2 separate regions of the Homo sapiens genome follow, and region 2 is linked to region 1. The links come from fine-mapping of genetic effects on plasma protein levels. A gene starts in region 1. The other region holds a variant in brackets. All regions are shown on one strand. Distances are from middle to middle.

The links. PIP is the chance, under the fine-mapping model, that this variant and not a neighbour inherited with it causes the effect. Sun 2018 read protein levels with aptamers (SomaScan).
Region 2: its variant is fine-mapped to the plasma level of the CFI protein (Sun 2018, PIP 0.95).

Annotation. Positions count from the first base shown.
Region 1 is chr4:109,799,691-109,805,075 of GRCh38, forward strand. It overlaps CFI (complement factor I), which reads right to left and starts at 2,309. Exons shown (of 13, transcript NM_000204.5): 1 at 2,225-2,309. The coding sequence starts at 2,281. It overlaps LOC124900757 (a long non-coding RNA gene), which reads left to right and starts at 3,982. Exons shown (of 2, transcript XR_007058226.1): 1 at 3,982-4,145.
Region 2 is chr4:109,733,029-109,738,413 of GRCh38, forward strand. It overlaps a transcript of CFI not described here. Among named protein-coding and RNA genes, the nearest start is that of PLA2G12A, 5.7 kb to the left of the region's middle. The variant G/A (reference allele first, on the strand shown) is at 2,546.

The DNA.
Region 1 (5,385 bases):
TTTTTAGAAGAAAATTGCTTTAACATTTGCAAACTAAGGTAATGAGAATACAGTGAATTTCAAAATGTCTTTTTAATGACAATGTGTGAACTTGTTTTAATAAACCAAAATTTGTTGTTATTGTGTTAAGGCTATTTTATGTACTCAGATATCCTTCAAGACCACTGCCAAATTAGGGAGGGTATGGGGCAAGGACACAAAGGACAGACACGCAAAATGCTACTAAGCTTTCATACCATTTTTAGTTGCCTGTTCCTGCATTCAACATTTTCTTAGGTGCTATAAACCTTTGACTGTTTTCCAGAGTTCTAAATAAAGTTGGTTCTGACAGCTTCCCTTTGGTTTCTGTAGAAATGGATTTTTGGTTTTTGGTTTTGGTGGATCTGCCTACTCTGCCATTTCCGCTGCCATCACTTGCACTGCACACCCTCCTGTGTGCCACCCTTGTTTCCAGGATGTTGTCATTCTGCTTAACATTACCCCAGTTCTTTCTCTCTAAAATGCCACCCATATGTGCCTGAGTTTGTAATAAAATTTTAGGGTAAAATAAAATTTAGGGTATCAGTTGGTGATTACGTCACAGCACAATTATGGTAGGTAATCATGTTGACTGAAATATTTGGCTTCTCTGTTTTTTTTTTTTTTTTTTTTTTTTTTTTGAGACAGGATCTTGCTGTGTCACCCAGGCTGGAATACAGTGGCATGATCAGAGCTCCCCGCAGCCTCAAACTCCTGGGCTCAAGCAATCCTCTTGCCTCAGCCTCCCAAAGTACTGGGATTACATGCGTGAACCCCCACACCTAGTCAGCTTCCTTGTTGTTGAACATCCTCTGGTTATTCCCCCCATTAGAAGGCCCCAGCAGCCACTCCCACTGTGCTATGGGTTTCTTTTCCATCTTTTCTGAATCCCCTAGTTTCCTTGTCTGAGTAGGTTCAGTAAAACCGAAAACAGAAAATAGAATCACCAGTAATCTTATTAGCCAATGATAGCAACTATTAACTGTTTGATACATACACTGTAAGATCTTTTAGTCATATATATAAGTAGGTATAAGTATGCATTTATATATATGCATATAAACACACATACATATGTGTGTGTGTGTTTTTCTTCAATAAAAATAAAATTGTAGTAAGGACTTTTTATTTAGATAAATATGTCATTTCAATGGCTATGTAATAGTTCAATTTTGGATATACAATAATTTAACCAGTGTCTTATTAATAAGCATTTAGTTATTTCCATTTATTCTCTATTATAAACATTGCAATGATGGCAACTATTTTAGAAGTTACAAGAATCTTAAAGTGTGTTTTCTTAAGTAGTTTTCTTTAAATATTTTCTTCTACAAGCTGGCACTAAGACAAGATAGTTTTGGATTGCCACCAAAGTTGGCAATCATCAATAAGTATCCAAAATATTTTAAACATTTTTCACCTTAATAGATGACACTCTAACTTCAATAAAATATGTCATTTCAGTTTCGAGTTCCTTTGTAGCCCACAAAGCCTTCATTCTGATCAAATGGATTCATTTATTTGGAGGGGCCTAGTGCATTGCTGCCTTCCTATGGTAGCACTTGCTGCTTTTCCTGGCTAAAGAAGCTGGAAATCACTCCTCTTTCTCACCACTGATCACATGTAATACAGAATTAAACGTTCAGCTCAAATCCTACTTGATCTATAATCTCTTCATGACCTCTCAGCATGAAGTGATTTGTCCTCTCATTGAAGTCCTTTACCACATATTTGTATCACTTTTGACAATTAAATATATACTGTCTTGTAACTTGCACTTTTGTGTTTTCAGATGTTTCAAATTTGCTTATTATTTCCCCTTTCTATAACTATAGAGCGTACTAAGAGGCTGTTGAAGGAAGAGATCAGTCTCACTGTCTTCGTAGCACTGTACCTTACACACAGGAGGAGCCTGGTAAATATTTTTGATTTACTACAATTACAGTAAATCACAGCCTTGTATTAGTAAAATTCTTGTTCAGTTCAATGCCTCTGCATATATAAGCACATAAAAAGAACTATTTTTAAAAAATCACTTTTATCAAGATATTAACATAAAACATTTGTTGCTGACTATAGAGTGGCATTGTTGTAACTGAACTATGTAATATTTAAATCAAAATTATATATTTAAGATTATTTTCTATGTTTTTACAACCTTTAAATTATCAATTAAAATTGTTTGCATAAAGGTTGAATTACTTACCTTGCAAAACCTTAAGTGGAAGCACAGAAATAACAGGAAAACATGAAGAAGCTTCATGTTGGAGGTGTTCGGGGTCTTTGTCTCTGCTGAGAACTCTTTTCCACTCCAGGTATTCTTTTGAAATTTAATTTTTAACCTCTGAAAAAATGTTTCAAAAGAACAAACCTCCTAAAGAGCTTTGTACTTTTGAACTCTGAAAGAATTTGGCTGAAATCCAGAGAGATTTACCGTAACTGAAACCAAAAAATGGCCTTCCCATTAAAGAGCTGAGGGAGGTGACCAATAGGAACTTGTTTCCACCAGAAGAGACTGATTTCCTCCCACCCTGTTAATTGCAATGACTCAATTCTGTATTCCAGGGAAGACAGAAATTATATTGGAAGCAATTTTTTGGTTTTTTTTTTGTACAGTAAAAATATAATTTTTTAAACTTAAGGTTGAAGACTAGGAGACAGTAAGAATAAAAGTAGACCATATAGTGAAGGCTGCAAAATACATTTAAAACTCTAGAAACCAGCTTCTTTACCATGCATTTGTTGTGCTGTGATCAAATTGTATTTTTGGAGTACAAGAAATTTTAAAAACAAGTATTCTTGTGCCAGTACCAACTATCATGCAGGGTTTATCTATTTATGAAATAAATCTGTGATAGCAGAAATGCTGACACAGTTGGGTTCATCAGAAGCAGACTTGAGACAGTGAGTGTGGGGCACAAGTGTTTGTTAGGGATCGATATCCATACAAGGAAGGGAGGGGAAGCAGGGGTGAACAGAGGTAGAAGTTGAACTGGAGTGAGTGTGACCTGTCACAGTGCCCCTGATTTCAGTATAAATGGCTGGGCCATTATATTCTGCCTTGCTTGGTCCCCTACTATATATTGCCCAGGAAGGGCATACACTTAGGTGAGACAGTTTTCTGTAGCTAAGGCAGACACAGAAGGATCTGACAGTTATGTGCTATCAGGAGGAGGTATCTTCTGACTACACTCTTTACAGCCAGGTAGCAAGACCTTCCTTGACAAGGGTTCTGGGAAACTCATCTCTGTGTCTTTCAGAGTACATACTTGCACCTCTTAGATCTATGTTCCATATACACTCCAGGAGTGGCTCCTTAAACATTTCAGTGGGTCCCTATTCTTGAGAGAAAACTTAGAAGAGGAAGTTAATGGGAAAAACTACAGCTCCTACCCTTGCAGTTGATCTTGGGGCTGTAGTTGAAACTTACCCTTGGCCCCCTTCCTATCCATTTTAGATTCCCTTTACCTTGACCTCCCACCTCTGCTGGTCTCGGTGACTTACTGGATGACATGTCCCACACTCTCTTTCAGGAGTGGTCTGAGCCCCTGGTTACCTTTTGTTTCTCAGGCAAAAGTTGCCATTTTTATCCCTACTGTCACAAGAGGCAGGCTGGACATGGTGGCTCACTCCTGTAATCCCAGCACTTTGGGAGGTCAAGGCAGGAGGATTGCTTGAGGCCAGGAGTTTGAGATGAGCCTGGGCAACACAGGGAGAGGTTGAGGCTGCAGTTAGCCATGATTGCACCACTGCACTCTAGCCTAAGTGACAAAGAGAGACCCTCTCTTAAAAAAGAAACCAAAAAAAGCAAAAAATAAGAGGTACCCCAGTAGGTTATGTGGGTTCTACACATCTTCCTCCCTGCCCACATTATAGTAATAGCAGCCCTACTTCCTCGGAATGATCAGGGCCAATTACCCTTGTGGATTCTGACTCTTTCTTGCTAGTTCCTAGACACAAAGAGCCCAGCGTACCCCAGGCAACAGCTCTGGTTTATAATTCCATGGGACTCTTGCTTGCCCCTGGTGAAAGTATAGTCCTTTGGAGACCAAGATAACGAACCCTGCAGAGTCTACAACTGTGGAGACAAGATGCACAAAGCCCCCAGTTGGTCAATGGTGGTGATGGTAAGTGTGGTAATTCTTGCCTTTATTCCTTGGTTCCCAGACCCAGGTATTCTTCCTATTGGGAACATAATGCTATATGAAAGTCTTTGATTGAATGTATATACTGCTTCCTGGAGGATAGCACCCCATTCTCACAAAGTTTTGCATTTAACTGGCACCTCAGCTCTGTCCTCAGCAGCCCATTATAACATTCTGTAAGTCCACCAGCTTCTGAGTGGTGTGGTATGTGATATGACCAGGGGATTGCATGATCACAGGCCCACTCCTGGGCCTGCTTTGCTGTAAAGTGGGCACCCTTGTCTGGCAGGATGTGATCTTTGCTAGATAATTAAGCACTCTATAATTCTCTGGATTATGGTGCTAATGGAGGCCCTGCAGGCAAGAAAGGCACACTCATACCTCAAATATGTCTATTCCTGTAAGAATAGACCACTGACCCTCCAAAGAGTGAAAGAATCAGATGTAATTAATTTGCCACTAAGTGACTAGTTGGTCTCCTTGAGGAATTGTGCCATCTTGTGGGGACAGTATTAGTGTCAGCTGCTGTCAGGTTGGGCATTTGTTAATGATGGGAGCTAGATAAGCCTCGGGGTCTGTGCTATTGGCCTCATGGGTGGCCTCTATCTCTGTTACCACGGTCACTTCATTCTTGTGCCCATCGTGCCAGCAGTGGGGTGGCTGATGACTGAGACTCAGTCATTTTGGCTCAATCGTTTTGTTGAGCCAAACTGGTTGAGCCATTTTGTTGGTTATTTAGTGCCTTTTCTTTGGTGGATGCTTTCTAGTAGGCATTAACATGTGATACAAAGATTTTTTTTCCTTTTTCTTTTTTCTCTCTCTCTTTTTTTTTTTTTTTTCTGAGACAGTGTCTCGCTCTGTCACCCAGGTTAGAGTGCAGTGGCGTGATCTCGGCTCACTGCAAGCTCCGACTCCCGGGTTCATGCCATTCTCCTGCCTCAGCCTCCTGAGTAGCTGGGACTACAGGCGCCCGCCATGACGCCCGGCTAATGTTTTGTATTTTTAGTAGAGATGAGGTTTCACTGTGTTAGCCAGGATGGTCTTGATCTCCTGACCTTGTGATCTACCTGCCTCGGCCTCCCAAAGTGCTGGGATTACAGGCGTGAGCCACCGTGCCTGGCCATGATACAAAGATTTGTATACTTCATGCCCAGTCCTGTATGTACACATATCCATTCTAGATTCTCTTCACTCCGACCTCCCACCTCTGCTGATCTCAGTG
Region 2 (5,385 bases), 67 kb before region 1:
TGGCACAATCTCAGCTCACTGCAACCTCCGCCTCCCAGGTTCAAGCTATTTTCCTGCCTCAGCCTCCCGAGTAGCTGGGATTACAGGTGCCCGCCACCACACCTGACTAATTTTTTGTATTTTTAGTAGCAATGGGGTTTCACCAAGTTGGCCAGGCTGGTCTCGAACTCCTGACCTCAAGTCATTCCCCTGCCTTGGCCTCCCAAAGTGCTGGGATTACAACATGAGCCACTGTGCCCAGCTCATCTCACGTAACTTCTAGATGACCCACTTCCATCTTTTCTTCCCAAATTTTGGCATAAACTGTTTGAAAAGAGCCTTCTTTACAGGACACTTTCATCTAACCAGCAAAACCTGTTATTTTCATGACAGACATCATTAGTTGCAAATCCACAGCTGTGTTCCAGGTCTTTCCTGCTAGAGAGTGGCTAGCTTGTCTATATATACTTTGTGGTGGGCAGAAGCTGAAGATAGGAAGTCAGTTATGATACAGTAATCTAGGTATGGCATAAGTATGGCTTGGTCCAGGAAAGGAGCAGTGGAGGTGTGAAAAGTGGTCATATTCTAGATGTAACTTGATGGTAGAGCAGAAGGGATTTGCTGATGGACTGAATATGAGAGAAAAAGAGGAATCAAGGATGGCATTGAAATTTTGGCCTAAGCCACAGGATAGAGAGAGTTCTAACTGTCAGAAATGGGGAGAATTGTGGAAGGAGAGGGTTTTGCGGGAAAATTTTAAAAATAAATTTCAGTCATACCATATCCAAGAAGCTTATTCTGAGTCTGCAGTTCAGCATAAAGGTTAGAAACGCATTGGGAAGTTGTCAGAATAGAAATGGCTTTTAAAGTCATGGGGCTTAGCTGGGCGCAGTGACTCATGCTTGTAGTCCCAGCACCTAGGGAGATCAAGGCTGGCAGATCGCCTGAGTCCAGGAGTTCAAGAGCAGCCTGGGTAACATAGCAAAACCTTATCTCTATAAAAAAAATACAAAAATTAGCCAGGCATGGTGGTACATGCCTGTAGTCCCAGCTACTTGGGAAGCTGAGGTAAGAGGATCCTTTGAGTCCGGAATGCAGAGGTTGCAGAGAGCCAAGATTGCGCTATTGCACTCCAGCCTGGCAACAGAGCAAGACCCTGTCTTAAATAAATGAATAAATAAATAACATGGGACTAAATGAGATCCTCTAAAAAGTGAGTGTACACAAAGAAGCAGAGCAAGGTCTAAGTCTTAGGAGGTCAAGGAAAAAAGAACAAAGGCGCTTAAGAAGGAGCAGCCAAGTGCAGCAGAAGTGGAAAAGTGCTATATTCTGGTGTGTCAAAGAAAGACAGAACCACCCATTCTGCTGATATGAGGAAGGTGAGGGCCGGATATTGACTACTAGATTTAGTAACTTGGGGGTTATTGGTGAACTTCACAAGAGTCTCATTGAAGTACTAGGGAGAAAACACAGTTGTAGTCAGAGGAAGAAAAGAATTAGAAATGGCGATTACAGGCAGGACGCAGTGGCTCATGCCTGTAATTCTAGCACTTTGGGAGGCCAAGGCGGGCAGATCACACGGTCAGGAGTTCGAGACCAGCCTGGCCAATATGGTGAAATCCTGTCTCTACTAAAAATACAAAAAAATTACCTGGGCGTGGTGGCAGGTGCCTGTAATCCCAGCTACTCGGGAGGCTGAGGCAGGAGAATTGCTTGAACCTAGGAGGTGGAGGTTGCAGTGAGCTGAGATCGTGCCACTGCACTCCAGCCTGGGCAACAGAGCAACAGTCTGTCTAAGAAAAAAGAAAAGAAAAGAAATGCAATTACAGTGAATATCAAAATAAATTATGAAAATATAAAATATACTATATTTGTGCTTATTCTTGTCTGAATGATATATTAATAAATACCTTGGAATGGGAGATTCTGGGTGGCCAAGACTGGCTTTCTTTTCTTTTCTTTTTTCAGAGACAGAGTCTCATTCTGTCACCCAGGTGGGGGTAGCATGATCATAGCTCACTGTACCCTCGAACTCTTGGGCTTAAGCAATCCTCCTACTTCAGCCTCCTGAGTAGCTAGGAATACAGGTGTACACAACTGTGACTGGCTAATTTTTGTTATTGTTATTATAGAGATGGGGTCTCCCTGTGTTGCCCAGGCTGGTCTTGAATTCTTGGGCTCAAGTGATCCTCCTGCTTTGGCCTCCCAAAGTGCTGGAATTACAGTCATGAGCCACCGCACCCAGCCCTACACTATATTTTCTATATAGAACTTCCCAGAACAATAATCAGGATAGGCAGTCAGATCTCAGATCTCTTCTAGAAACACCAAATGGTTTCTTCTATATATATGAGCATCATGGAAAAACATGGTAGTATTGATGAGATGAGAATGCAAAATTTGTGGGGTTTAACGTACCACATTAACTTAGAATGCTTGGAAACTACAATATTACACAATGCTTTGTGTTATTTTAAATAACAAAAATCAATAAAATATTAATGATAAACAGCAATTTCTATTTTTTAGTATTTTCCAATGTCTCACTAATGGCCTCAGCAGTGTT[G/A]TGATGAAAATAAAAGCCACGTGGTGAAAACAGTTCCAGCCATAATGGTTAATTTTTGTCCAGGATGAAAATAAAAGCCACATGGTGAAGCAATTCCATCCATAATGATTAATCTATGGCTAGTGCCAATGTCGCGGGAATCAGGCGGATGAGAGAGACTTCGGGGTAAAGCAGGAGGATCTTTATTGAGTGTACTCAGACTTACATCTGGAAAACTGGGCCTAGAACAAAGACAGCACTTGACTTTTATACACACTTCAAAAAGGGAGTGGGCTAGCTTGAAGCAGGCTTACAGTTACAGTGGTGTGAAAGCAAGGATACAGAGGCAGAGCAATTAATCAAATTGTGACAGGTTCATAACTCAGGATTACACATGACCGTTGCTGTGCAACCCAGATGTCAGTTATCTAGGTTTTCCTTTAGTGCCTAGCACAGCTTATTCCATGACCTTCACTATGGCGTCCAGGTGGCTGTATCTCAGGCCTGCTCAGACAGTTTATGACCTTCACTCCACTACTTAGATAAAACAGAATGCTTGAAGTTGCTAGTTACAGAGAACAGAAATCTATAAACTCATACTATAAGAGAAAGGAAAATTTGTTTTTCTTCTCCTTATGTTGAGGGAGTGCTGGGAGAGTCTCCAGAGCACATTCCTTTGTGTCCTAGCTTCTTAGATAGTGTTTATCAAGACTCTTTTTCCTGGGTCTGGGCCTTGCCTGCTACTGCCTTTGGGATGAGTCAGCCTAATACAGGAAAGCTTACTTCTTTCTCTTTTTAATTTTATTTTTCTTTATTTCTTTAATTTCCCACCGCACCAAGGCTAGAAGTTTCATCTCTAAAAGGGAACTTAAGTTAAAGAGAAATAAGTACTAGGTTCCAGCCTTTGGCTAGAAAGTCAATGGCATTAATAGCTTTCAAGCTGGGACAAAGTGAAGGGCAAGAGATGGCTGCACCAGATCTATGAGCATGGGCTTGTTCCATAATATGTTGAAGACAATGATCCTCTGCTTGGGTATGGTGGGGGGTCTACCATCAAGAAAATTTGATCAAAAAGATATTTTCAAGGTATCTTTGTATGCACAATGTAAGATTGCTTGGCACACAGGAGGGATGGAAAGAACCCACTTAGTTGAGACTGCAGGGTTTTAAGCCATCAGGACAGAGTCCGTATGTAGTTCTTCTAATTAGGGTTCCTGGCTACTTCCAAACCTCTGGTTGATTTTCAGCTTCGTATTTCCTATCACGTACTGTACACCTTCACTGGGCTTCCTTAGACATCACAACTTCAAAATATCCCTAACTGTCTAAATCTGATTCCATTCCTCTACTTCCTTCCTTTCTGTACTCAGTGGCAACACCAATCACCTCACCATCTAAGAGACTGGGAATTATCCTAGTCTCAAATCCCTCTCCCTAGTACTGTAATCTATTTGTCCCCAAATGCCATCTATTTCACTCAACATATCTAGAGTCAGTGCCATCCTTTTTATCCCTGCTTTAGTTTCTACCTTCATTATTTTTCATTTGATTACTCCAAGAGTGTCTTAACCATCTTCCATACCCTCTCTCACCCACTTCCAATACATCTTCCTTGCTGTCTCCAGCTTGAACTTCCTAGAATCCTTTAATGGTCCAAACTCTTTGGTATGAGGCTCTCCCTGGTATGGCCTTTCCCCCTCTCCAGCTCCTTAGCTGCACCCTGGGCTCCAGTCACTATGAACTGCTCTCCATCCTTGTGTGTGGTTAGCTCCTCACACTGCAGGGCCTTTGCATTTGTATCTGCCTGGAAAGTTCTTCCATAATTCAGACTAAGCTCACCTCTGCAGAAGCCCTCTTTAATATGTCAGGCTGGTTTCTAGATCTCCCTTTAGTTTTCCTTACCATTGTACCTGGCAAGGTGCAGCCGCATAATTTATTTTCCCATTTCTCTTGTAAGACAGAGAGCTCTGAAACCAGGGTTAAATATAAGACGATGGCAGAGCTCCACATCCAATGAGTTGTGTCCCTGGCCACCTTCAGGCGAGCTCACAGAAGCAGCAATGTCCAGTGCCCAGGCTCTGCAGTACAAGCTGTACGTGGAGACTGGGACCCATGCTAGTGGCCATGGTAGTCTCTGATGGAGCAGTCCTGCAGTGTGGTCTGTGAGCGTTATTTCCAGATGTGTAGACTCCAATTCTCTGGCTCTTTTGGAAATTCTGTGAACTGCATAATATCTTTGAATAAATCTATTTTTTCATTAAACCAGTTAGATTGGCTTCTGTAGTCTGGAATTAGGAGCGCTGAGACAGACCTCTAAACTAGGAGAAGCTTGGAGTCAGGTCATCTCACTCCTGCTGTTCCTGGTCTCTGTCACATAGAGTCGCTTCAGAGGGCTGACTTTCACCCTTCAAGGCTTGACCCTGGTCTACTTTTCTGTGAAGCTGCCAGATGCTAGGTCACTGTGCAGACTGGCTTGGCCCTTTTGGGGGCCCCCTTCCTAGATTGGCTGAGGATGCCCTATATGCTGGGTTTCCCACCTTGTAGCACTGGAGTACTTTTCTTTTTTTTTTTTTTTTTTTTAAGACGAGGTCTTGATCTGTCACCCAGGCTGGAGTGCAGTGCTGCAATCACAGCTCACTGCATCCTCAACCTCCTGGGCTCAAATGATCCTCCCACCTCAGCCTTCCAAGTAGCAGGGGCTGCAGATGTGCACCACCACTCCCAGCTTTTTTTGTGTGTGATAGAGATGGGGTCTTGCTATGTTGCCCAGGCTGGTCTCAAACTTCTGACCTCAAATGATCCACCAACTTTGGTCTCCCAAAGTGCTGAGATTACAGGTATGATCCACTGCGCCCAGCCAC